Linked DNA regions of Homo sapiens: regions 2, 3, 4, 5 and 6 are each linked to region 1. Evidence: fine-mapped expression QTL. A gene starts in region 1. Each other region holds a variant in brackets. All regions are shown on one strand. Distances are between the middles of the regions.

Region 1 (4,088 bases):
CTCTCTCTCTCTCTCTCCCTCCCTCTCCCTCTCTCTCTCTCTCTCTCTCTCTCTCCCACCCCCACCTCCTCTTTTTAAGACAAAGTCTTGCTCTGTCACCCAGGCTGGAGTGCAGTGGCGCGATCTCGGCTCACGGCAAACTCCGCTTGCCGGGTTCAAGAGATTCTCCTGCCTCAGCCAAGCAGCTGGGAATACAGGCACCTGCCACCACGACCGGCTAATTTTTTTTTTGGAAGAAAATGACTTTATTCTAATTAACTCACAAAGAATAAAATCATAACAGCTAGTTTAAGGAGGCCACACAAACATTTGCCCTGTCACAGATTCTACAGAGTAGGAACACCCCCCTTCCATTTCAATTCTGAAGCAAGGAAGCTAGGAATGACAGGAGAGGTTTAACTCATGGTTACACTTTATACCCTCACTATCAATTCTATTTTTATACTAAATTAACTTAGTTATGAGAGCTGATTTTCCATCTCTCCAGGTTGAACTTCTTGATTAGGCCAATCCGTTTGCAAGTCGGCACTGTTTCAGCACCTCATTGAAACCCTCACAGAGCTTGATGTCACCCTGGTTCTGGGCACACTCCAGAAACTGATCTCATAGAAGCAAGGCTGCTGCTGCTGTGCCGGCTGGGTTCCCTGAGGCTCCTGGTAAGTGATGTCAGGCCTCGCAGGCTCAGCATTACTTCCTCCCCTGAAAGCCCCAGTAATGGCGTGACCCACAGCAGAGCCCACAGCCACGCCAGCTGCAGTGGTTGCCATCTGGGCCATCAGACCTGGCTGCCGGGGCGCAGCAGCAGAAGAGCCAACTACAGATGGGGGTGCCGCTGCTGGTGGCTGAACGACTGGTACTGGCCTGGGTGCAGCTCTCATCTGAGGGGGCCTGGCTGGCCGGAGGGGCCATGCGGGAGGTGCGGCTTCGGCTTCCACGCGGCATCCTAGGTACGCGACGGCTCGGCCTCCGGACGTGTGACGACCGGCTAAATTTTGTATTTTAGTGGAGATGGGGTTTCACCATGTTGGCCAGGCTGGTCTCAAACTTCTGACCTCAGGTGATCCACCCACCTTGGCCTCCCAAAGTGCTGGGTTAACAGGCGTGAGCCACCGCACCTGGCCCGATCTACCCTTCTCTTACAGGATTCCTAGAGACTTAATATTTTGGTTTTGGTTTGTTTCTTTTTTGAGACAGGGTCTCCACTCCGTCGCCCAGGCTGGAGTGCAGTGGTCACTGTAGCCTGGATCTCCCAGGCTCACGGGATCCTCCCACCTGACGGCCTCCCGGCCTCCTGAGTAGCTGGGACTACAGGTACGCACCACCACACCCGCTACTTTTTAATTATTTTTTTTTTTTGAGACGGAGACTCGTTCTGTTGCCCAGGCTGGAGTGCAGTGGCACGATCTTGGCTCACTGCAAGCTCCGCCTCCCGGGTTCACGCCATTCTGCCTCAGCCTCCTGCGCAGCTGGGACTACAGGCACCCGCCACCACGCCCGGCTAATTTCTTGTATTTTTAGTAGAGAAGGGTTTTCACTGTGTTAGCCAGGATGGTCTCAATCTCCTGACCTCGTGATCCACCCGCCTCGGCCACCTAAAGTGCTGGGATTACAGGCGTGAGCCACCGCGCCCAGCCCTACTTTTTAAATTTTTTGTAGAGCGGGGTCTCACTATGTTGGCCATGCTGGTCTCGAATTCCTGGCCTCAAGCGATCCTCCCGCCTTGGCCTCCCAAAAGCTGGGATTACAGGTGTGAAACCCCGCGCCGGTCTGAACCTCAATGTTTGAACCACCAAATTTTACCTGTATTGACACAGGCCCCGTCTTGTTGTTTTTCTAAATCTCATGTCATTGTTTGCATATTGGTTACCCGTGGTTGGCTTTGGAGCTGAAGGTGGACAGAGCTAACATCAGGTTGCACACAGGAACACAGTGAGGTCGCGAAAAAGTAGCGCGAGCTGCCTCCATGGCCCAGGGCGACCTCACCGGCGTTTCCTGTCTGGGACTGCGCCCACGCGGTCACGTGGTGGCCCGGAGGACGCGCGGCGGCAGCGGCGCACGCGCACGGAGAGGAGGCTACTTGCCAGGTGAGCGAGCTGAGTGGGGCGCCGGGGCGGTAGGAGGGTGCTGTTCGCTGAGCTGGAGTCCGGGCTCCGGTCCCCGCCACGGACCTTGAGAGGGTACCCGGGGTCAGACCTGGCAGGTGGGAACCGGGAGTGGGGAGGACCCAGGGCAGGGGCGGGATGCGCAGATTCGTGGAAACTCTGCAGGTTGTGGACAAACTGCCCAAATCCTTTTCCCTGAATGCCAGTTTAATGGCCTCGTCTGATAAGAAAAAAATAAGAAATAGATTTCAGAGACCCTATTTCTCTCTCTGCCTCTCCACCTGCTTTACTTTTTTTCTCTTCTGTTAATTTTGAGCCTTATAAAACTATAGCGCCAGTATCCTGGTTTGGATCCTGAAACAGAAAAAGACATTAGTGGAAAAAATAATAAAGGCTGTGGTTTAGTTAATAGCACGTACCCATGTTAATTTCTTAATTTCGACAAATTGTACACAAATGTTGACATTAGAGGAATTTGGGTAAAAGGTACACAGGAATTCTTAGTACTATCTTTGCAATTTACTGTACATCTAAAATTATTCTAAAATGAAAAGTTAAGAAACAAAATCCTAAAGCAAAGTGCAGCAGGCCATTGTTCACCAGGGAGGGCTCAAGTTAGTTCCTCTTTGTCATGGAGTTAGGCATGTTTGACCAACTTGTTTGCTAAGGCAGAGTTGTCAGGCTACTGAATGTAGATTCTTCTGTCCAAAGGTTTCCGGGCAGGAATCGGTTTTCTCTTTCGATTCTGTCAAATATCTTTGGAACACATGTTGTGCATAAGCAAACGAGACACACAAAGTCTCTGCATAAGGGAATATACAGTCAGTCTAGGTCAGGTAGGAAGTAAGCACTATTAAAAAGATTCAGTAAAACCTCCCAGAACTGGGAAGACTCAGATGTGGAAGAAATCACATCTGGTCCAAGGGAGTCAGGAAGGCTACTGGAGGGAGTGCTGTCCTGAACTGAGGGGGCTCTGAGAAGAAACAGCATTCCTGGGGTGAAGAATGGCACCAATAGAGGCTTGCAGGTGACCAAGCTGAGCTGAGGGAGGAGCCCTGGGAGCAAGTGCAGTTCCTCTTACGTGGAAGCGCAGAGTACATCCAGGGAGTACTGCCAGATGAAACTGGAGGTGAAAACTGTAGCTTTGTTGTAGAAAACAGGGTGACACTTCAGTTGGATACATTATTTTTATTTTTATTTTTTTGAAACGGAGTTTCGGCTGGGCGCAGTGGCTCACGCCTGTAATTCCAGCACTTTGGGAGACCGGTGAGCAGATCTCCTGAGGTCTGGAGGTCTAGACCAGCCTGGCCAACATGGTGAAACCCCGTCTCTACAAAAATACAAATATTAGCCGGGCATGGTGGTGGGCGCCTGTAATCTCCGCTACTGGGGAGGCTGAGGCAGGAGAATCGCTTGAACCCAGGAGGTCTAGGTTGCAGTGAGCCGAGATCGCACCATTGCACTCCAGCGTGGGTGACAGACAATAGTGCTGTCTCAGCTCACTGGAACCTCCACCTCCCAAGTTCAAGCGATTCTCCTGCTTAGCCTCCCAAGTAGTTGGGATTAAAGGCGCCCGCCACCATACCTGGCTAATTTTTGTATTTTTAGTAGAGACGGGGTTTCACCATGTTGGCCAGGCTGGTCACAAACTCCTGACCTCAGGTGATCTGCCCGCCTCAGCCTCCCAAAGTGCTCGGATTACATGTGTGAGCCACTGTGCCCAGCCTACATTTTTTTTAAAAAGGAAAACAGGGTGACATTGACTACAATTATACATGCCATGGGAGCCATGGAATGTTTTACAGCAAGAGAGAGACATCATTCGGTTTGCACTTGGATATTATTGACTTGGCAGCAGTATGTAGGTTGGCTTGAAGTAGACCAATTAGGAAATTATCAGGCTAGCCTTGGGGAATTAAAGAGACGTTCCACCAGGGCAGTGAAATTAATGTGCAAAGAATGACATAGTTTGGGGAGATTTTTTTG
Region 2 (4,088 bases), 22 kb after region 1:
TACTCATGGAAGCAGGACCAGTAAGAGACTTTCGATTACAAAAAAAAAATTCTCAAGTGAATAAAGTCCATTGATAGATATTTTGTTTAAATGGTACCAAATCTGTGTGGAAGGCAAATTTTGGCTTTCCAGACATTCTTGCTGAACTTGAGAGCTCATCTTTTTCAACTGGCCTCCTCTGTTTCTTATCCACCTCATCTCTTAAAAGAAGCTACTTATGTAAACATGCCCACCGGTTCTCCTTTCCACCCCACTTCTCTTATCTCCTCCTTGAGAAAGTAAGTTATCACTTCCTTCCACCGGCCTTCCCCGTATGTGTGGCTTCAAACAATCTGACTTAATTTAACCTCATTAAAGTCAGAAGCCCAGAGTCTCAGGTGGCCTGAGTAGCCCACTGCCTTGGTGGAAATAGCAGTTTCTGCGAGGGGTGTCTGTCCTTTGGGAAATAGGAAGCCCACCTTACTGTGTGTTTGGGACTCTTCCCGTGAAAGCTACTGTATTTGGCTGCCGAGACAATGTACCACAAACTGGTGGCTTAAAACAGCAGAAATCTGTTTGCTTTTAGTTCTGGAGGCTGAAGTTTGAAACCAGAGTTTCAGCAGGCCGTGCTCCCTCTGAAGGCTTTAGAGGAGAGTCCTTTGCCTCTTCCTAGCTTCTGATGCTTGCTGCAATCCTTGGTGTTCCTTGGCTGGTAGCTGCAGAAATCCAGCCTCTGCCTGTCACATGGCCTTCTCCCTATGAGTCTGGGTCCAAATTTCCCTCAATTTATAAGGACACTAGTCATTGGATTGGGGCCTGCAGCTGCCTCCTCACCTTGAGTCCCTACATAAGGAACTACAACCTCAGTATGTAAACAACATGAAAGCCAACTGAGGCTGGGGGCAGTGGCTCATGCCTGTAATCCCAGCACTTTGGGAGGCCAAGGCAGGTGGATCATTTGAGGTCAGGAGTTCGAGACCAGCCTGGCCAATATAGTGAAACTCCGTCTCTACTAAAAATACAAAAATTAGCTGGGCAGTAGTGGCACATGCCTGCAATCCCAGCTACTCGGGAGGCTGAGGCAGGAGAATTGCTTGAGCCTGTGAGGCAGAGGTTGCAGTGAGCTGAGACCACGCCACTGCACTCCAGCCTGGGTGACAGAGTGAGACTCTGTCTCAGAGACCTTCCTGGTTCAAGCAATTCTCATGCCTCAGCCTCCGGAGTAGCTGGGATTACAGGTGTGAGCCACCATGCCCAGCTATTTTTTATTTTTTTAATTGAGACAGAGTCTTGCTGTCACCCAGACTGGAGTGCAGTGGCTCAGCCTCGGCTCACTGCAACCTCCGCCTCCCGGGTTCAAGCGATTCTCCTGTCTCAGCCTCCAGAGTAGCTAGGATTACAGGCATGCACCACCACGCCCAGCAATTTTTTTGTATGTTTAGTAGAGACGGGGTTTCACCATGTTAGCCAGGCTGGTCGTGAACTCCTGACCTCAGGTGATCCACCCACCTTGGCCTCCCAAAATGCAGGGATTACAGGTCACACCACCTTGCCCGGCCGAGGCTTTCAATTTTAGTATGTCTGGTTCACTCACTAAGTCTAGAAGAATTTTCAGCCACATTTGTAAGTGGTTTGAGCCAAGGGTAAATGTAGACTAGCCAAACTGATAATTTTAGGGTTGCATATCTTGCAGATAGGAAGACTAATTTTCTTTCTGTCCTCAGGAGGTAGAAATGTTAAAAACTGAACTTGAGGCATCTCAAAGACAACTCAGAGGTAAAGAGGAAGCATTGAAAATTCTTCAAAGCATGGTAAGAAGTTGTTTTTAAACTTTCACCATTTACACATTCCAATAATAATGTTGGTATGGTTTTAACTTTTAAAACCAAGGCAGAAGGACTTAATATAGTTGAGGGTTTTTTTAGGTATGTATATTTTTAAGAGCTTTATAATTTATATATCCTGAAGTTCACATGTAAATGTACACTACAATTCATTTTTACTAGATATAAGAGTTGTACCACCATCATTATAATCTAATTTTAGAATATTTCCAACACCAGAAAAGGGACTTGGTGCCCATCAGCAGTCATTCCTCATTCCCACCCCTATCCCCAGTAATCTATTTTCTGTTTGTAGATTTGCCTTTTCTATTTAATATAAATAGAATCATAAGATATGTGACTGGATTCTTTTGCATTGAGATTCTTTTAGTTAGCATGTTTTAGAGGTTCATACATGTCGTAGCGTGTATCAGTACTTTCTTCCTTTTTATTGCCAAGTAATACTCCATTGTGTAGATGCACCATGTTTTGCTTATGCATTCACCAGTTGATGGACATTTGGGTGGTGTATTAGTCCATTTTTATGCTGCTGATAAAGACATACCCAAGACTGGGGGAAAAAAAGAGGTTTAATTGGACTTACAGTTCCACATGGCTGTGAAGGCC[T/C]CAGAATCATGGTGGGAGGTGAAAGGCAGTTCCTACGTGGCAGCAGCAAGAGAAAATGAGGAAGATTCAAAAGTGGAAACCTCTGATAAAACCATCAGATCTCATGAAACTTATTCACATACCAGAACAGTATGGGGGAACCACCCCCATGATCCAAACTATCTCCCACTGGGTCCCTCTCACAACACGTGGGAATTATGGGAATACAATTCAAGATGAGATTTGGGTGAGGACACAGAGCCAAACCATATCATTCCACTCCAGCCCCTCCAAATCTCATGTCCTCACATTTCAAAACCAATCATGCCTTCCCAACAGTCCCCCAAAGTCTGAAATCATTTCAGCATTAACCCAAAAATCCACAGTCCAAAGTCTCATCTGAGACAAGGCAAGTCCCTTCTGCCTATGAGCTGGTAAAATCAAAAGCAAGCTAGTTACTTCCTACATACAATGGGGATGTAGGTATATAGCCATTCCAAATGGGAGAAATTGGCCAAAACAAAGGGGTTACTGGGCTCATGCAAATCCAAAATCCAGCAGGGCAGTCAAATTTTAAAGCTCCAAAATGATCTCCTTTGACTCCAGGTCTCACATCCAGGTCATACTGATGCAAGAGGTGGGTTCCCATGGCCTTGGGCAGCTCCGCCCCTGTGGCTTTGCAGAGTACAGCCTCCCTCCTGGCTGCTTTCACAGGCTGGCATTGAGTGTCTGCGGCTTTCCCAGGTGCACAGTGTAAGCCATGGGTGGATCTACCATTCTGGGGTCTGGAGGATGGTGGCCCTCTTCTCATAGCTCCACTAGGCAGTGCTGTAGTAGGGACTCTGTGTGGGGGCTCCAACCCCACATTTCCCTTCTGTAGTGCCCTAGCCCCGGTTCTCCATGAGAGCCCCATCCCTGCAGGAAACTTCTGCCTGGACATCCAGGCATTGCCATACATCTTCTGAAATCTAGTGGAGGTTCCCAAACCCCGATTCTTTACTTCTGTGCACCTGCAGGCTCAACATCATGTGGAAGCTGCCAAGGCTTGGGGCTTGCACCCTCTATATTCACAGACGGAGCTGTACCTTGGCCCCTTTCAGCCACCGCTGGAGTGGCTGGGACGCAGGGCACCAAGTCCTTAGACTGCACACAGCACGGGGACCCTGGGCCCTGCCCACGAAACCATTTTTTCCTCCGAGACTTCTGGCTCTGTGATGAGAGAGGCTGCTGCAAAGGTCTCTGACATGCCCTGGAGACATTTTCCCCATTATCTTGGGGATTAACATTTGGCTCCTCATTACTTATGCAAATATCTGCAGCTAGCTTGAATTTATCCTTAGAAAATGGGATTTTCTTTTCTATTGCATTGTCAGGCTGCAAATTTTCTGAACTTTTATGCTGTGCTTCCCTTTTAAAATGGAATGCCTTTAACAGTACCCAAGCCATCTCTTGAATGCTTTGCTGCTTAGAAATTTCTTCCACCAGATACTCTAAATCATCTCTCTCAAGTTCAAAGTTCCACAGATCTCTAGGGCAGGGGCAAAATGCCACAAATCTCTTTGCTAAAACATAACAAGAGTCACCTTTACTCTAGTTCCCAACAAGTTCCTCATCTCCATCTGAGACCGCCTCAGCCTGGATTTCATTGTCCATATCATTATCAGTGTTTTTGTGAAAGAC
Region 3 (4,088 bases), 53 kb after region 1:
AATTAGTATTCTGTGTTGACATTTTATTTATAAATTACATTACTGTATTTATAAATTACATTACAGGCTGGGCATGGTGGCTCATGCTTATAAATCCCAGCACTTTGGGAGGCCAAGGTGGGTGGGTCACCTGAGGCTGGAGTTCAAGACCAGTCTGACCAACATGGAGAAACCCCATCTCTACTAAAAATACAAAAAATTAGCTAGGCCTAGTGGCGCATGCCTGTAATCCCAGCTACTTGGGAGGCTGAGGTAGGAGAATCGCTTGAACCTGGGAGGCGGGGGTTGTGGTAAGCCGAGACTGTGTCATTGCACTCCAGCCTGGGCGACAAGAGCGAAACTCTGTCTCAAAAAAAAAAAAAAACACATTACAGTGTTTGCCAACATCCTAAAACAAAAAATAATGATTTTTGGGAAAAACAAAAAATTATTTAACTATTTTGATTGACTATAGGGATCTTAGCTTGGCTAAATCAACAATATAGCAATGTATCTTAATGCTCTAAAAAGTAACAATACCTAGGACTGACTGAATGTTAATTTCTGGAATTCATTTATCTTGTTTTATTTGCCTTGTTCAGTATTTTTCATTTACCATATGAAGTTTAGAAATAACAATTTCCTTAAGTTAACTTCAATAAGACAGTTTTGATGGTGGGACCTTGGCAGAAGTATATTGAGTCAGTGCCGGCTGCGTTCATGGCTTCTTGTCAGGGTAGTAACATTTTGCAACCAAATCTGCACAGATTTGTAGCCAAGTCTACAAAGTGCTTAACAGCTCTTTTCATTGCATCCTGTGAGATGGTTGTGATGATCCAGGAAATGGGGTCTCAGGAATCTGAAGAAGCTGCCTGAGCCAAGGTGATTTCTAGGAGTTTTTTTGTTTGTGGTATGTGAATTGGGGTGTGTGGGGGTGGGGTGTGTGTGTAGACAGGGTCCCACTGTGTTGCTCAGGCTGGTGCCAAACTCCTGGCCTCAAGGGATCCTCCTGCCTCAGCCTCTCAAAGTGCTGGGATTACAGGCATAAACCACAACTCAATAAAAAAGTTTTTAAAAATTTACAAAGCTCATATTTGATCCAGCTAGGATTTTACCCTGTACATTTGTATTTCTTGTAGGCTGGCGCACAGATATCTTAAATGGCTACTAATTGCTGCTGTGTATGAAAACAAATGGCTATCAAGGCCGGGTGCAGTGGCTTACAGATCTGGTCTGAATCTCAAGTCCAGACCAGTCCAGAGTTCAAGACCAGCCTGGGCAACATGGTGAAACCCCATCTATACAAAAACTCGGCAAGGCATGGTGGCATGCACCTGTTGTCCCAGCTACTCAGGGGCTGAGGCAGGAGGATGGCATGAGCCCAGGAGCTTGAGGCTGCAGTGAGCTGTGATTGTGCCACTGCACTCCAGCCTGAGTGACAGAGTGAGACCCCCATCTCCAAAAGAAAAGGCTATCAATACAAAAGTTTATCTAAATTACTGTACAGCTATACAATGGAATACTCTACAAAATGGAGAGATCCATAAGATAAAGCAAATGAATAAAGCAAAATGCATGTGTTGACAGCTGTTGTGATACCTCAGTTCTTGTCTTCTTGGTTTAAAAGAATTTAAATGAGACAGCAAAGGAGATGCAGCATAATTTATTGCAAAAGAAAAGGAGTATTTTGAAAGTTAGGTGCAGAACAGACAGTACACCTGAGAGAGAGAATTCAGGGCCGGCTGCTCGTAAGGGTGAGACAGCATTGATTATTGCTGGAGAAACTCCCTTTATGGGAGTTTTGCATTATTATTCATAAGGAGGTGAGGTGTTGCAGTAATCATGTCCTGGGTGGTCCTCTGCACAGGTGCAGTAGCTGTTAATGCTTGTTCATACACCACATGTCTCAGTAGCATCTTAAATTTCCACCTAGAGGTGTGTTTTTTATTATTATCATGTGCAAAGGATCAGTTTGAGGACAGGTAAAATCAAAATGTGTATGCTCTCTAGAAGGGAAAGTCCCTACTGAAGATAGCTTTGCTTAAATGAGCTCAATTACAATGTGAATGCTGAGGTTTATTGTGTTGGCTGTATGGTCATGAGAAAATGGTCATTTCCTTGACTACCTGATACGGTTTGGCTGTGTCCCCACCCAAGTCTTATTTTGAATTGTAATCCCCATAATTCCCACATGTTGAAGGAGGGACTTGGTGGTAGGTGACTGGATCATGGGGGTGGTATCCCCCATGCTGTTCTCATGATTGTGAGTTCTCACGAGATCCAATGGTTTTATACATGGTAGTCTCTCCTGCTGCCATGTAAAACATGCCTGCTTCCCCTTCTGCCAGGATTGTAAGTTTCCTGAGGCCTGCCCAGCCATGTGGAGCTATGAGTCAATTAAACCTCTTTCCTTTATAAATTACTGAGTCTTGGG[T/GT]AGTATTCTTTATAGCAGTTTGAGAACGGAATAATACACTCCTATCCTGCCTCACGTGTTAGACACATTTTGAGTGTCCTCAGATCCCTTTGGCGCTATTATCTCCTGGACTCTTAGCTGCTTGGCTGCTTCTCCCTTGGCAGCTCCCTGTCTACACACACACACGAGGAAGTCAGACAGATTTGAAGCACGAGTGGGTTTGATGCACTGCTGCTGTCCTGTGGTGAGTGCCACAGGACAAAGGCATGGAAGTTTCCTTAAGAAGCTGAGAGAGGCCCTGGGCTAACAGTCAAAAGGGAAATGGGGGCAATGGAGCACAAGAATTGCAACTATAAGAACTGCATGAGCGGCCGGGCACGGTGGCTCACGCCTGTAATCCCAGCACTTTGGGAGGCCAAGGTGGGCGGATCACGAGGTCAGGAGATAGAGACCATCCTGGCTAACACAGTGAAACCCCGTCTCTACTAAAAATACAAAATATTAGCTGGGCGTGGTGGCGGGCACCTGTAGTCCCAGCTACTCGGGAGGCTGAGGCAGGAGAATGGGTGAACCCAGTGGGCGGAGGTTGCAGTGAGCCGAGATCGTGCCACTGCACTCCAGCCTGGGCGACAGAGCAAGACTCCATCTCCAAAAAAAAAAAAAAAACAAACCTGCATGAGCTTGGTAGCAGATTCTTTCCAGGGGCCTCCAAATAAAACTAGTTTGACTAACACCTTGATTTTGGCCTTGTGAGACCCTAAGCAGAAAACACAGCTGAGCCAGATATATGGCCTACAGAACTGTGAGCTAATACATTTGTGTTACTTTAATTAGCTGGGCATGGTGGTACACATTTGTAATCCCAGCTACTTGGGAGGCTAAGGTAGGAGGATCACCTGAACCCCAGGATGCAGAGGTTACAGTGAGCTGAGATTGCACCACTGCACTCCAGCCTGGGCAACAGAGCAAGACTCTGTCTCATTAAAAAAAAAAAAAAAATTAACCAGGCATGGTGGTATGCACCTGTAGTCCCAGCTACTGGGGACAGAGGTGGAAGGATGGCTTGAGCCCAGGAGTTCGAAGCTGCAGTGAGCCATGATTGCACTACTACACTCCAACCTGGGCAACAGAGACTATCTCACAAAAAAAAAAAAAAAAAAAGGAGAGAGAGATTCTATCAATTTATATACAATTTTGAGACCCAAAACAATGCTGTACATTGTTATGCATCTCACTACATGCACTCTTACAGAATACTAGCATAAAATCATGGAAAGATACACACCAATTTCATAGAGTCATTTCCCTCTGGGGAAAGTGAAAAGGAAAAAATAGAAATAAAGTGAAGTATTGGCTGGGCGCGGTGGCTCACACCTGTAATCCCAGCACTTTGGGAGGTCAAGGCAGGTGGATGAAAAGGTCAGGAGTTCGAGACCAGCCTGGCCAATATGGTGAAACCCCATCTCTACTAAAAATACAAAAAAAAAAAAAATTAGCCAGGCGTGGTGGCACATACCTGTAACCCCAGCTACTTGGGAGGCTGAGGCAGGAGAACTGCTTGAATCCAGGAGGTGGAGGTTGCAGTGAGCCAAGATCGCACCACTGCACTCCAGCCTGGGTGACAGAGCGAGACTCCATCTCAAAAAAAAATAAAATAAAGTGAATTTTTAAGAGGGAACCTCTGGCCAGGTGTAGT
Region 4 (4,088 bases), 140 kb before region 1:
ACACTATCTTCCACAATGGTTGAACTAGTTTACACTCATACCAACAGGGTGAAAGCATTCCTATTTCTCTCCACATCCTCTCCAGCATCTGTTGTTTCCTGACTTTTTAATGATTACCATTCTAACGGGTATACATGTGCCATGAGATGGTATCTTATTGTGGTTTTGATTTGCATTTCTCTAATGACCAGTGATGATGAGCTTTTTTTCATATGTTTGTTGACTGCATAAATGTCTTCTTTTGAGAGGTGTCTGTGCATATCCTTTGCCCACTTTTTGATGGGGTTCTTTGTTTTTTTCTTGTAAATTTGTTTAAGTTCCTTGTAGATTCTGGATATTAGACCTTGTCAGATGGATAGATTGCAAACATTTTCTCCCATTCTGTAGATTGCCTGTTCACTCTGATGATAGTTTCTTTTGCTGTGCAGAAGCGCTTTAGTTTGATTAGATCCCATTTCTCAATTTTGGCTTTTGTTGCAATTGTTTTTGGTGTTTTAGTCATGAACTCTTTGCCCATGCCTATGTCCTGAATGGTATTGCCTAGGTTTTCTTCTAGGGTTTTTACGGTTTTAGGTCTTATGTTTCAGTCTTTAATCCATCTTGACTTAGTTTTTGTATAAGCTATAAGGAAGGGGTATAGTTTCAGTTTTCTCCATATGGCTAGCCAGTTTTCCCAGCACCATTTATTAAATAGGGAATCCTTTTCTCATTGCTTGTTTTTGTCAGGTTTGTCAAAGATCAGATGGTTGTAGATGTGTGGTGTTATTTCTGAGACCTCTGTTCTGTTCCATTGGTCTATGTATCTGTTTTGGTACCAGTACCATGCTGTTTTGGTTACTGTAGTCTCATAGTATAATTTGAAGTCAAGTAGCAGCTGTGTAATTCTAAGCAAGACATTTAATCTGCCTTTACCACTCACAATAATGTCTCTGTGTTAGTCCATTTGCATTGCTATAAAGAAATATCAGAGACTGGGTAATTTATTTATTTTTTATCCAAAATGTGTTTATTGAGGCCAGGCACAGTGGCTCATGCCTGTAACCTCAGCACTTTAGAATGTCGAGGTGAGCAGATCACCTGAGGTCAGGAGTTCAAGATCAGCCTGGCCAACATGATGAAACCCCAAAATAAGCCGGGCATAGTGGCGCATGCCTGTAATCCCAGATACTCAGGAGGCTGAGGCAGGAGAATTGCTTGAACCTGGTAGGCGGAGGTCGCAGTGAGCCAAGCTCACACCACTGCACTGCAGCCTGGGCGACAAGAGTGAAACTCAGTCTCAAAAAAAAAAAAGTGTTTATTGAGATGATTTCCCACTCATCTTGATTCGGAGTGCTTTTTAATGCTGCTTCCTCCTGAAGGAACATCCTTCTGTAAGCCTTGCTTTTCTTTCTGTAGGCTGGCAGAGGACAGTGGAGCAGCCAACACACAAAATTTCTGTTAGTGCATGGCTAAAGACTGTGATGATTTTGTACCATCCTGGGCATTTACACCCATGAAGTAGGAATTGGGGCTCTGCATCAGGCACTGCTTCTTGTGTTTCCTCTTCCCCTATTCTGGAGAGGGATGAAGGAGATCCTTTGTGAGAGGCATGTTCTCCTGGGTAGGTCGTCACCGCTGGAAAAAGACTGGGTAATTCGCAAAGAAAAGAGGTGGCCGGCCACAGTGGCTCACGCCTGTAATCCCAGCACTTTGGGAGGCCGAGGTGGGCGGATCACCTGAGGTCAGGAGTTCAAGACCAGCCTGGCCAAAATGGTGAAACCCCATTTCTACTACAAATACAAAAATTAGCTGGGCGTGATGGCGGGCACCTGTAATCCCAGCTACTTGGGAGGCTGAGGCGGGTGAATCGCTTGAACCTGGGAGGCGGAGGTTGCAGTGAGCTGAGATTGCACCATTGCACTCCAGCCTGGGCGACAAGAGTGAAACTCCGTCTCAAAAAAAAAGGAGAGAGGAAAAAGAAGAGGTTTAATTGGCTCACCGTTCTGCAGGCTGTAT[A/G]GGAAACATGGCACCAGCATCTGCTTGGCTTCTAGTGAGGCCTTAGGGAGCTTTTACTCATAGCAGAAGGCAAAACAGGAGCAGACATGTCACATGGTGAGAGTGAGTGGTGGAGGTGGAGGAGGTGCCACACTTTTTTAAACAACCAGAGCTCTCAAGAGCTCTCAGAGCGAGAACTCCCTTATTATTGTGAGGACAGCACTAACCCATTTATGAGGAATCTGCCCCCATGACCCAAACACCTCACACTAGCCCACCTCCAACAGTGGGGATCACATTTCATCATAAGATTTGGAAGAGACAAAACATCCAAACCTTATCAGTCTGTGAAAATGTTTGGAAGAATAAAGTGCTACTAGCAGTTGAGCCATTCAATATTTAAGGGCAAGCTGCTTCCATGGGCTTGGTCTTAGGAGGGAATTAAAGAATAGCTAAGGTGAAACCAACTCAATAGTCCCATAGACAGTTCTGGTCTTAAGCTTGAACCTTACATTTGTATTATCTGAGTTCCTTCCTCAGGAAAGGACCCTCAAAAGCCTCTCAAAAAGTACCTGAAGAAAAAGAACTGAAACTCACCAGATCGTTGCATCCAGACAATGAGACACCAGGCCCTTCATTCATCATGATTGCTTCCTTACCCCTCTCAAGTTGAGTTCCTGTTTTCCCATGCATAGTTACATTTCTTCCCTGCTAGATTAACCCCTAATTATAGTCAGTCAGGAGATGAATTTGAGACTAGTTCCCATGTCTTCAGCTGCAGCACCCAATTAAAGCTTTCTTCCTTGGCAATACTCATTGTCTCAGTGATTGGTTTTCTGTGCTATGAGGAGCAGGACTTAGACTGAATACCTGCTATTATGGTAACAAAAGCATGGTCTATGCTGGAGGCATCTGTGGTTTTTGCATGTCTAGCTTCTATTAGAGCACACATGCAGCTTTTCATTTATAACTCACCCTTCTTCAGCCCAGCGCAGTGGCTCATGCCTGTAATCCCAGCACTTTGGGAGGTCAAGTGGGTGCATCACGAGGTCAGGAGATCAAGACCATCCTGGCTAACACGGTGAAACCTCGTCTCTACTAAAAATACAAAAAAATTAGCCAGGCGTGGTGCCAGGCGCCTGTAGTCCCAGCTACTCTGGAGGCTGAGGCAGGAGAATGGCGTGAACCCGGGAGGCAGAGATTGCAGTGAGCCAAGATCGCACCACTGCACTCCAGCCTAGGCAACAGAGTGAGACTCCATCTCAAAAAAAAAAAAAGAAAAAGAAAAAGAAAAAAAAACCTTATCTTTCTTCCATTCCATGAGGTCCTGACGGGATTGTGTTCTGCCCACACATTAGCGGATATGAGATCCAGGCTGCCTCATCTGATGTGGTGATAGGTTCAAAGATGGACACATAACCCAAACCAAGACCTATCAGACGCTTCCAGAGACATGATAGAAAGCTGCTGGAAGAGAGCCACTTCCCTGTAACCCACTACGTGCTTATGTACTGGAGCTGACACCAGGCATCTTCCGCAGTTACACAGAGAAAGTCTAAACATGACAGCATGAGACTAAATATGCTGTGAGAAGCAGTGAAGATGAGAGAAACAGACTGAAAGGGAACCCTGAAGCCAAGTCAGCTCCTAAACTTCTCAGTTCTCTAATTCAAAAGAGTCCCTTGTATGCATAAGCTGATTTGAGTTTCTGTTATTAGAAACCAAAGCCGTTCTGACTAATACAGTTTCAGTCCTCAAATTCATATCTTATGAAATTTGATAGTTATTTACTTAATAAGAGACCATTTAAAAAATATCAGCTAATTCTGAAACATACAAGCTCAGTTTAAGCATCTTATGATGACCTCAGCACCCTAGAAGGCCTGTTTCTAGAGAACACTACTTCTGCTCTCAATAGTGGAGATGGGTGGTTAGCAATAGTTGTGTTGTACCTAAACCTGTTATTCCCACTTGTACTTGCTACTACATGTGTGTACGTATGTGTATGATTTAATTAAATATTATTTAAATGATAAAATATGATGCGGGCCAGCTGCTGTGGCTCAGGCCTATAATCCCAGTACTTGGATAGGCCAAAGTGGGTGGATCACCTG
Region 5 (4,088 bases), 43 kb after region 1:
CACTGGGCGACGGAATGAGACTCCATCTCAAAAAAAAAAAAATGATCAGTATTGAGTATTATTATATCTGTGTATTAAAAAATATATTAAAATAGCATGAGAGAATTGAAGTAGATCTTCCAGTATGAACAAAGTAGCTGTTATTTTTTAGAAATCTGTTTCTCTAAGTAGTTCATACCAATTTTTATTCATCAGTATTATTCTGTAGAATTCATATTGCTTCAGTTTAAAATGTCAAATTATAATTTGAAACCATTTATCAGTTGAGAAAGAATCAAGTGAAGTTTATAAGAATTTTAAATGTTTTGTAGAAAAATTCTAGGATGACTGTATTTCTAAATATTTTCTTATCTGTCAGATCTATAATTCTAACATCTCTTATATTCAGGTGAATTTAGAAAGACTAATACACATCTTGTAATATTTAAAATGATCTTAGGGGAACACCATCATAGAAAATATTTAAAATGGAACCTGTTGGCTGGGCGTCGTGGCTCATGCCTGTAATCCCAGCACTTTGGGAGGCCGAGGTGGGTGGATCATTTGAGGTCAGGAGTTTGAGACCAGCCTGGCCAACATGGTGAAACCCTGCCTCTACTAAAAATACAAAAATTAGCCGGGCTTGGTCGCAGGCGCCTGTAGTCCCAGCTACTTGGGAGGCTGAGGCAGGAGAATTGCTTGAACCTGGGAAGTGGAGGTTGCAGTGAGCCAAGATTGCACTACTGCACTCCAGCCTGGGGGAAAGAGCAAGACTGTCTCAAACAAAAAAAAAAAAAAAAGAAAAAAAAGAAAAAAAAAAGAAACCTGGCCATGTGCGGTGGCTCAGGCCTGTAATCCCAGCACTTTGGCAGGCTGAGGCAGGCAGATCACCTGAGGTCAGGAGTTCAAGACCAGCCTGGCCAACATTGAGAAACCCCATCTCTACTAAAAATACAAAAATTAGCTGGGTGTGATGGCACTCACCTGTAATCCCAGCTACTCGGGAAGCTGAGGCAGGAGAATCGCTTGAACCTGGAAGGCAGAGGTTGCAGTGAGCCAAGATTGCGCCACTGTACTCTAGCCTGGGTGACAGAGCAAGACTCTGTCTCAAAATAATAATAATAATAGTAATAATAATAATAATAATAAAATGAAAGCTTTATAGTAGATAGCCATTTTGTTTGAAATATTTATTTTCAAACAGTATATATTACTAATAGTATAGGAGTCAGCTGTCGTGAATTTTAGTTTCATTAACTAAGCTTTCCCCCTTTTCTTTGCTGAAAAGGGTAAGAAGTGATGCAGAGGGATGATAGAAATAGAAGCAGTAAATCAGAACTACAGAGTAGGGAAATGCAGATCATAGAAGCTACATGTTTGGAGTGTTCATTAGATGGAAGCCAGGACAAAACAGGAAAATATAATGTTTTGTAACACTTATTCTGAGAAAGTCATTCATATTTTCTTGAAATTAATTTCTAAAAATGTTTTCTGACACGAAACTTTTGAGAAAATATAATGGCTAAATTCCCGACAGTGTTTTAGTAGCTTTTTTTTTTTTTTTTTTGAGGCAGCATCTTATCCTGTTGCCCAGGCTGGAGTGCAGTGGTGTGATCATGACTCACTGCAGCCTCTACCTCATGGGCTCAAGCAATCCTCCCACCTCAGCCTCCCTAGCAGCTGGGACTTCAGGCATGTGCCACCATGCCAGGCTAAATTTTGTATTTGTTTATAGAGATGAGGTCTCACTGTGTTACCCAGGCTGGTCTCAAACTCCTGGGCTCAAGCGGTCCTCCCTCCTCGGCCTCCCAAAATGCTGTGGTTACAGATGTGATCCACTGCACCTGGCCAACAATGTCTTATAATAAATACAAAATAATGTATTTAGATAATATGGTCATTTTCTATAATAAACTCTTCATAAAAGCTGAAGGTACAACTTTAATGTTCAATCCAGGTTAGGTGATTTTGCCAGGGAAAAAGCTAACATGGTCCATGTATTTAGCCTTTTAGGAACCAGTGGAAAACACTAAGAATACCTGGTTCTACCACGGACCACAGCTATGTGTAGATAATCTTCCTCAGACACCTCCTCTCTCAGCTAAGCCCTTAATAGCAGTTGGATTGTAAAATCCTCTTTGAGGACAGCCCTGGTGTTTTGTGCTAATTGAAGGCAGATCTTCTTA[G/A]AAAGTCAGATTGTAAATATTTGTTTGTTTTGATAGAGGTGGAAAGAAAAGTGATGGGAAAAAGAAGAGACGAAGGGGAAAGTCAGGGTTAAAGTAATCTTAATCTTACGAATGCCTGTCAGACCCTGTCACCTGCCTGCAAGGCCTGCAACCCTGTGTGGAGCTTGGCCATTAGGATAGTGCAGTGTAGACAAAGCTGCATTTTTCTCAAGAGCTAGATTCATACTCATTTCAGCACTTGAGAATATGTGCATTTGATGTTCCATAATTCCTACCTTCCACAGTGTAAGAGACAGGGGAAACCAAAGTGTTTTCCTATTCACACAGCACTTACCACTCAGCTCAGCGCTTCTGACACCAGATGCTAGGGGTGGGGGATTCCCCACACACCAGCTGGGTATCCTATCATTTCCCTCAATTCTCACACTGTCTACCTGGAGTTAGAGTCAGATCCCATAAGTTAAAGGCTCAGTCCCACAAGATGGCCTGCACTCCAAATGCCAGTCAAAAGCACAGAGTTGTCTCTGCTGCTCCTGACTGACTGGCTGTATGTACATTGGGACTCCCATGACGCCCTCCTCAGGCTCCATTGATTTGCTAGGATGCCTCACAGAACTCCGGGAAACACTTCCGTTTACCAGTTTATTATAAAGGATCTTACAAAGGATGCAGATGAACAGCCAGATAAAGAGATGGACAGGGCAAGGCACGTGGGAAGGGATGCTCTCTTTGGCGTACCACCCCTCAGGAACCTCACATGCTCAGCTATCTGGAAGCTCCCCAGACCCTTTTGGGTTTTTATGGAGGCTTCATTACATGGACACGGTACATCACTGGCCATTGGTGATTACATCATTGGCCATTGGTAATCAACTCAACCTTCAGCCCCTCTCGCTTCCCTGGAGTTTGGGGGCTAGGGCTGAAAGTTCCAGCTTTCTAATCACAAGATTGGTTCCCCTGGCAACCAGCCCCCATCCTGAGGCTATCCAGGAGCCCATCAAGAGCCTCATTAGAACAAAAGATGCTTCTATTACCCAGGAAATTCCAAGGGATTTAGGGGCTCTGTGTCAGATGCTCCTAGCACTGAGGAAATTACAGTCTTAAGAATTGTGTGTTAGGAACTGGGGTCAAAGACCAACTATGAGAAAAGATTCACCTAACACCCCTATCTACTAGGATTTTAGGAGCTCTATGTCAGGAACTGAGGGCAAAGACCAAATATATATTTCTTATATTACAATATCACATTCAGCTATTGACAAATCTAAGGAAGATTCCCACAAAAAATGCAATTCAGAGGGGTATAGCTCCCAATCTCTGAGTTCCAGTAAGGCACTGAGAGAGACTGAAGGCAGAATTTTAAATAATTGATATAGGCAGGGCACAGTGGCTCATGCCTGTAATCCCAGCGCTTTGGGAGGCTGAGGCAGGAGGATTGCTTGAGCTCAGGAGTTTGAGACCAGGCTGGGCAACATAGGGAGACCCTGTCTCTATTAAAAAAAAAAAAATAGCCAAGTGTGGTGGTAGATACCTGTGGTCTCAGCTACTAGGGAGGCTGAAGTGGGAGGATCGCTTGAGCCTGGGAGGCTGAGGCTGCAGTGAGTCATGATCCCACCACTGCAGTCCAGCCTGGGTGATGGAGCAAGACCCTGTCTCAAAAAAAAAAAACCACCAAAAACTGATGGCCGGGTGCAGTGGCACGCCTGTAATCTCAGGACTTTGGGAGGCTGAGGTGGGTGGATCACTTGAGGTCGGGAATTTGAGACCAGCCTGACCAACATGGAGAAACCCTGTCTCTACTAAAAATACAAAATTGGCTGGGTGTGGTGGCACAAGCCTGTAATCCCAGCTACTCGGGAGGCTGAGGCAGGAGAAATGTTTGAACCCGGGAGGCAGAGGTTGTGGTGAGCCAAGATTGCGCTG
Region 6 (4,088 bases), 30 kb after region 1:
CAGCCCAGCCAACATGATGAAACCACTTCTCTACTAAAACACAAAAATTGGCCGGGCGTGGTGGCGGGCGCCTGTAATCCTAGCTACTCAGGAGGCTGAGGCAGGAGAATCACTTGAACCTGGGAGGCGGAGGTTGCACTGAGTCGAGATCACATGACTGCACTCCAGCCTAGGTAACAGAGCAAGACTCCGTCTCAAAAAGAAAAAAAAAAAAAAAGGGTATGTTTAAAATCCTGGCCGGGCATGATGGCTCACAACTGTAATCCCAGCACTTTGGGAGGCTGAGGCGGGCTGATCACTTGAGGTCAGGAGTTCGAGACCAGCCTGGCCAACATGGTGAAATCCCGTTTCTACTAAAAATACAAAAATTAGCCAAGTGTGGTGGCAGACACCTGTAATCCCAGCTACTTGGAAGGCTGAGGCAGGAGAATCACTTGAACCCAAGAGGTGGAGGTTGCAGTGAGCTGAGATTGTGCCACTGCACTTCAGCCTGGGCGACAGAGTGAGACTCCATTTCAAAAAAAAAAAAAAAAATTCTTACCACATTCCTTTAAATTGTTTTTATTTTTGTGATACGTGTAAATTCCAGACTATTTTGAAGTAGGAAAAACTATATTTAGATTTTTGTGTTCCAATTATGGCAATAAAAATATTCTCGCTCAGCAAGGAAATATTAATGTTTTAGTTATTTGAAAGCCACTTTTTTCCAGGCTAAACTGTGAAAATGCAGTCCTCAAAGAGAATTTGAAAGTGAAAACAGAAGAAATTAAAATGCTGAAGTCTGACAATGCAGGTAATGATGATTTTTGTATTAAGAGCACATGTATCAATAAAGATAACATGCTAGTATTTTGAAATAATATACATTAAGTATAATAGAGGGGAGAAATGTATCATTTAGGTTTTTTAAATTTAAGAAAATTTATCAAGGTGAAATTCACATAACATAAAACTATTTAAAAGTGAACAATTCCTGGCTGGGCACAGTAGCTCATTCTTGTAATCCCAGCACTTTGGGAGGCCAAGGTGGGCAGATCATCTGAGGTCAGGAGTTCAAGACCAGCCTGGCCAACATAATGAAACTCCATTTCTACCAAAAATACAAAAATTAGCGAGACATGGTGGTGCGCACCTGTAGTCCCAGCTACTCAGGAGGCTGAGGCAGGTGAATCGCTTTTACTCTGGAGGCCGAGGTTGCAGTGACCCAAGATTGTGCCTCTGCACTCCAGCCTGGACAACAGAGTGAGACTCCATCTCAAAAAAAAAAAAAAAAAAAAAGTGAACAATTCTTGCCAGGCACAGTGACTCATGCCTGTAATCCCAGAACTTTGGGAGGCCAAGGCAGGAGGATCACTTGAGCTTAGGAGTTTGAGACCAGCCTGGGCAACATAGCAAAACCTTGTTTCTATTAGAAACAAACAAACAAACAACAACAACAACAGAAAAACCAAAATTAGCCAGATGTGGTGGCACTGGCCTGTAGTCCCAGCTACTTGGGAGGTTGAAGTGGGAGGATTGCTGGAGCCCAGGAGGTTGAGGCTGCAGTGAGCCATGATTGTGCCACTGCACTGCAGCTTGGGTGACAGAGCGAAACTCGGTCTCGAAAAAATAAGTTAACAATTCAGTGGCATTCACAAAGTTGCCTAACCACCACCTCTGTCTAGTTCCAGACAGTTCCAGTACTCCAAAGTAAAATCTCCTACCTATTAAGCAATTTCTCCCCATTTTCTCCTTTTTATTTAGTTTTCACTTAAAGCAAAATGGTAGAGCACCTGATATTTGAAGAACCTAAGTAGAAATGATATATATGTGTGTATATAATTTATATGTTATATATCTCTTATATAATGGTCTACCTTACGATGAAAGTTGATGCAAGGATAATAAGATATTTAATGTTAACTTTTTTTTTTTTTGAGACAGAGTCTCACTTTATCGCCAGGCTGGAGTGCAGTGGTGCAATCTTAGCTCACTGCAACCTCCGCCTCCTGGGTTTAAGCAATTCTTCTGCCTCAGCCTCCTGAGTAGCTGGGACTACAGGTGCATGCCACCACACCCAGCTAATTTTTGTATTTTTAGTAGAGACAGGGGTTTCACCATGTTGGCCAGGATGGTCTCAATCTCCTGACCTCGTGATCCGCCCGCCTCAGCCTCCCAAAGTGCTGGGATTACAGGTGTGAGCCACCGCGACTGGCCTTTTTTTTTTTTTTTTTTTTTTTGAGATGGAGTCTCACTCTGTTGCCCAGGCTGGAGTGCTGTGACGCCATCTTGGCTTACTGCAACCTCCACCTCCCAGTTCAGGTGATCCTCCTGCCTCAGCCTCCCAAGAAGCTGGGACTACAGGTGCCTGCCACCACACCTGGCTAATTTTTGTATTTTTAGTAGAGGCAGGGTTTCACCATGTTG[A/G]CCAGGCTGGTCTCAAACTCCTGACCTCAAATGATCCACCCACCTTGGCCTCCCAAAGTGCTGGGATTACAGGTGTGAATCACCATGTCCAAACTGATGTTAACTTTTTACATATTTTATTTATTTATTTGTTTATTTATTTATTTATTTTCACACAGGGTCTTGCTCTGTTGCCCAGTTTGGAGTGCAGTGACACAATCTCAGTTCACTGCAACCTCCACTTTCTGGGCTCAAGAGATCCTCCCACCTCAGCCTCCCAAGTTGTTGGTACTACAGGCATGTTCCACCATGTCCAGCTAATTAAAAAATATATTATTATTATTATTATTATTATTTTGAGACAGAATCTCACTCTGTCGCCCAGGCTGGAGTGCAGTGGCACAATCTTGGCTCACTGTGACCTCTGCCTCCCAGGTTCAAGTGATTCTCCTGCCTCCACTTCCTGAGTAGCTGGGATTGCAGACACCCACCACCATGCCCAGATTTCTTTTTTTTTTTTGAGACAGAGTCTCACTCTGTCACCCAGGCTAGAGTGCAATGGTGCAATCTCACCTCACTACAACCTCCTCCTCCCGAGTTCAAGGATTCTCCCGCCTTGGCCTACCACGTAGCTGGGATTATAGGCACCTGCCATCATTCCCAGCTAATATTTTTGTCTTTCTGTAGAGACGGGGTTTCACCATGTTGACAAGGCTGGTCTTGAACTCCTGACCTCAGGTGATCTGCTCGCCTTGGCCTCCCAAAGTGCAACATTAAAAAAAAAATTTTTGTAGACATGGGGGTGACTCACTTTGTGAGGGCTCAACTCCTGGGCTCAAGCAATCCTCCCACCTTGGCCTCCAAAAGTGCTGGGATTACAGGTGTGAGCCACTGCACCCAGCCCTAAAAATTTAGAGAAGAGGCTAGTTCTTCCTTCTTAGCAGAAATTAAAGAGGTGGCTTGAAGAGGACAAATCACAAGCCAGGCGCTGTTGCTCATGCCCGTAATGGCCAGTGCTATGGAAAGCCAAGGGGAGAGGATTGCTTGAGGCCAGGAGTCTGAGACCAATCTGGGCAACATAACGAGACTCTTCCTCTACAAAAAATAAACAAAAATTAGCCAGGCATGGTAGCATGCACCTGGTTTTTTTTTTTTTTTTTTGAGAGGGAGTCTTGCTCTGTCGCCCAGGCTAGAGTGCAATGGCGCAATCTCACCTCACTGCAACTTCCTGGCTGATTGGGAGGTTAAGGTGAGAGGATCCCTGGAGCCCAGGAGTTTGAAGTTGCAGTGAGCTATGATTGGACCACTGCACTCCAGCCTGAGTGACAGAGCAAGACTCTGTCTCTTACACAAAGAAAAGGAAGGAAAAAAAGAAGAAAAGAAAGGAAAAAAGAAGAAAAGGACAAAAAAAGCTCTAAATTAGGCCCTGGGGCTGAGAGCGGCACTTTATGCTGTGTCTTAGCTGAGTTGTATAAACGCCTCCAGCTGAGATCTGCACACACAGCTGGAGCTTCTCAGCACCAGGGACTCCAGCTGATAAAGATGTCTCCTGTGTGAGATAAGTTCAGGACAGAAGCTGCTCATGATCATAAGTCCTCCCCTTCTGTCCTACCACTCTACCCTGCAGTGACAGGGAAAAGATACTGTTTTCTGCTCTCCAGTAGACAGCAGGACCCCTCTCTAAATGTTTGGTTTGAGATCTT

Alleles and levels. Positions count from the first base shown, and alleles are read on the strand shown. Sizes are in standard deviations (SD) of each study's normalised expression. Not every link is listed here.
In carriers of allele A in region 5, the expression in cerebellum of the gene that starts at base 2,048 in region 1 tends to be higher than with G alone (large effect, 0.82 SD a copy in GTEx).
In carriers of allele A in region 6, the expression in whole blood of the gene that starts at base 2,048 in region 1 tends to be lower than with G alone (small effect, 0.32 SD a copy in GTEx).

What was found. PIP is the estimated chance that this variant, and not a neighbour inherited with it, causes the effect.
Region 2: its variant is fine-mapped to the expression of CCDC125 in whole blood (INTERVAL, PIP 0.95).
Region 3: its variant is fine-mapped to the expression of CCDC125 in blood mononuclear cells (TOPMed, PIP 0.91).
Region 4: its variant is fine-mapped to the expression of CCDC125 in blood mononuclear cells (TOPMed, PIP above 0.99).
Region 5: its variant is fine-mapped to the expression of CCDC125 in cerebellum (GTEx, PIP 0.96). The same link has a PIP of 0.9 or more in thyroid.
Region 6: its variant is fine-mapped to the expression of CCDC125 in whole blood (TOPMed, PIP 0.93).

Annotation. Positions count from the first base shown.
Region 1 is chr5:69,330,761-69,334,848 of GRCh38, reverse strand. CCDC125 (coiled-coil domain containing 125) reads left to right here and starts at 2,048. Exons shown (of 12, transcript NM_176816.5): 1 at 2,048-2,200. It also overlaps the pseudogene CHCHD2P2.
Region 2 is chr5:69,308,820-69,312,907 of GRCh38, reverse strand. It overlaps CCDC125 (coiled-coil domain containing 125), which reads left to right. Exons shown (of 12, transcript NM_176816.5): 4 at 1,704-1,790. It also overlaps the pseudogene CFL1P5. Among named protein-coding and RNA genes, the nearest start is that of CCDC125, 22 kb to the left of the region's middle. The variant T/C (reference allele first, on the strand shown) is at 2,430.
Region 3 is chr5:69,278,169-69,282,256 of GRCh38, reverse strand. CCDC125 (coiled-coil domain containing 125) reads left to right here. Exons shown (of 12, transcript NM_176816.5): 12 at 1-2,082. Among named protein-coding and RNA genes, the nearest start is that of CDK7, 45 kb to the right of the region's middle. The variant T/GT (reference allele first, on the strand shown) is at 2,414.
Region 4 is chr5:69,467,385-69,471,472 of GRCh38, reverse strand. It overlaps the pseudogene RPS27P14. Among named protein-coding and RNA genes, the nearest start is that of OCLN, 23 kb to the left of the region's middle. The variant A/G (reference allele first, on the strand shown) is at 1,996.
Region 5 is chr5:69,287,321-69,291,408 of GRCh38, reverse strand. All of the region lies in intron 10 of CCDC125 (coiled-coil domain containing 125), which reads left to right. Among named protein-coding and RNA genes, the nearest start is that of CCDC125, 43 kb to the left of the region's middle. The variant G/A (reference allele first, on the strand shown) is at 2,166.
Region 6 is chr5:69,300,552-69,304,639 of GRCh38, reverse strand. It overlaps CCDC125 (coiled-coil domain containing 125), which reads left to right. Exons shown (of 12, transcript NM_176816.5): 7 at 711-793. Among named protein-coding and RNA genes, the nearest start is that of CCDC125, 30 kb to the left of the region's middle. The variant A/G (reference allele first, on the strand shown) is at 2,407.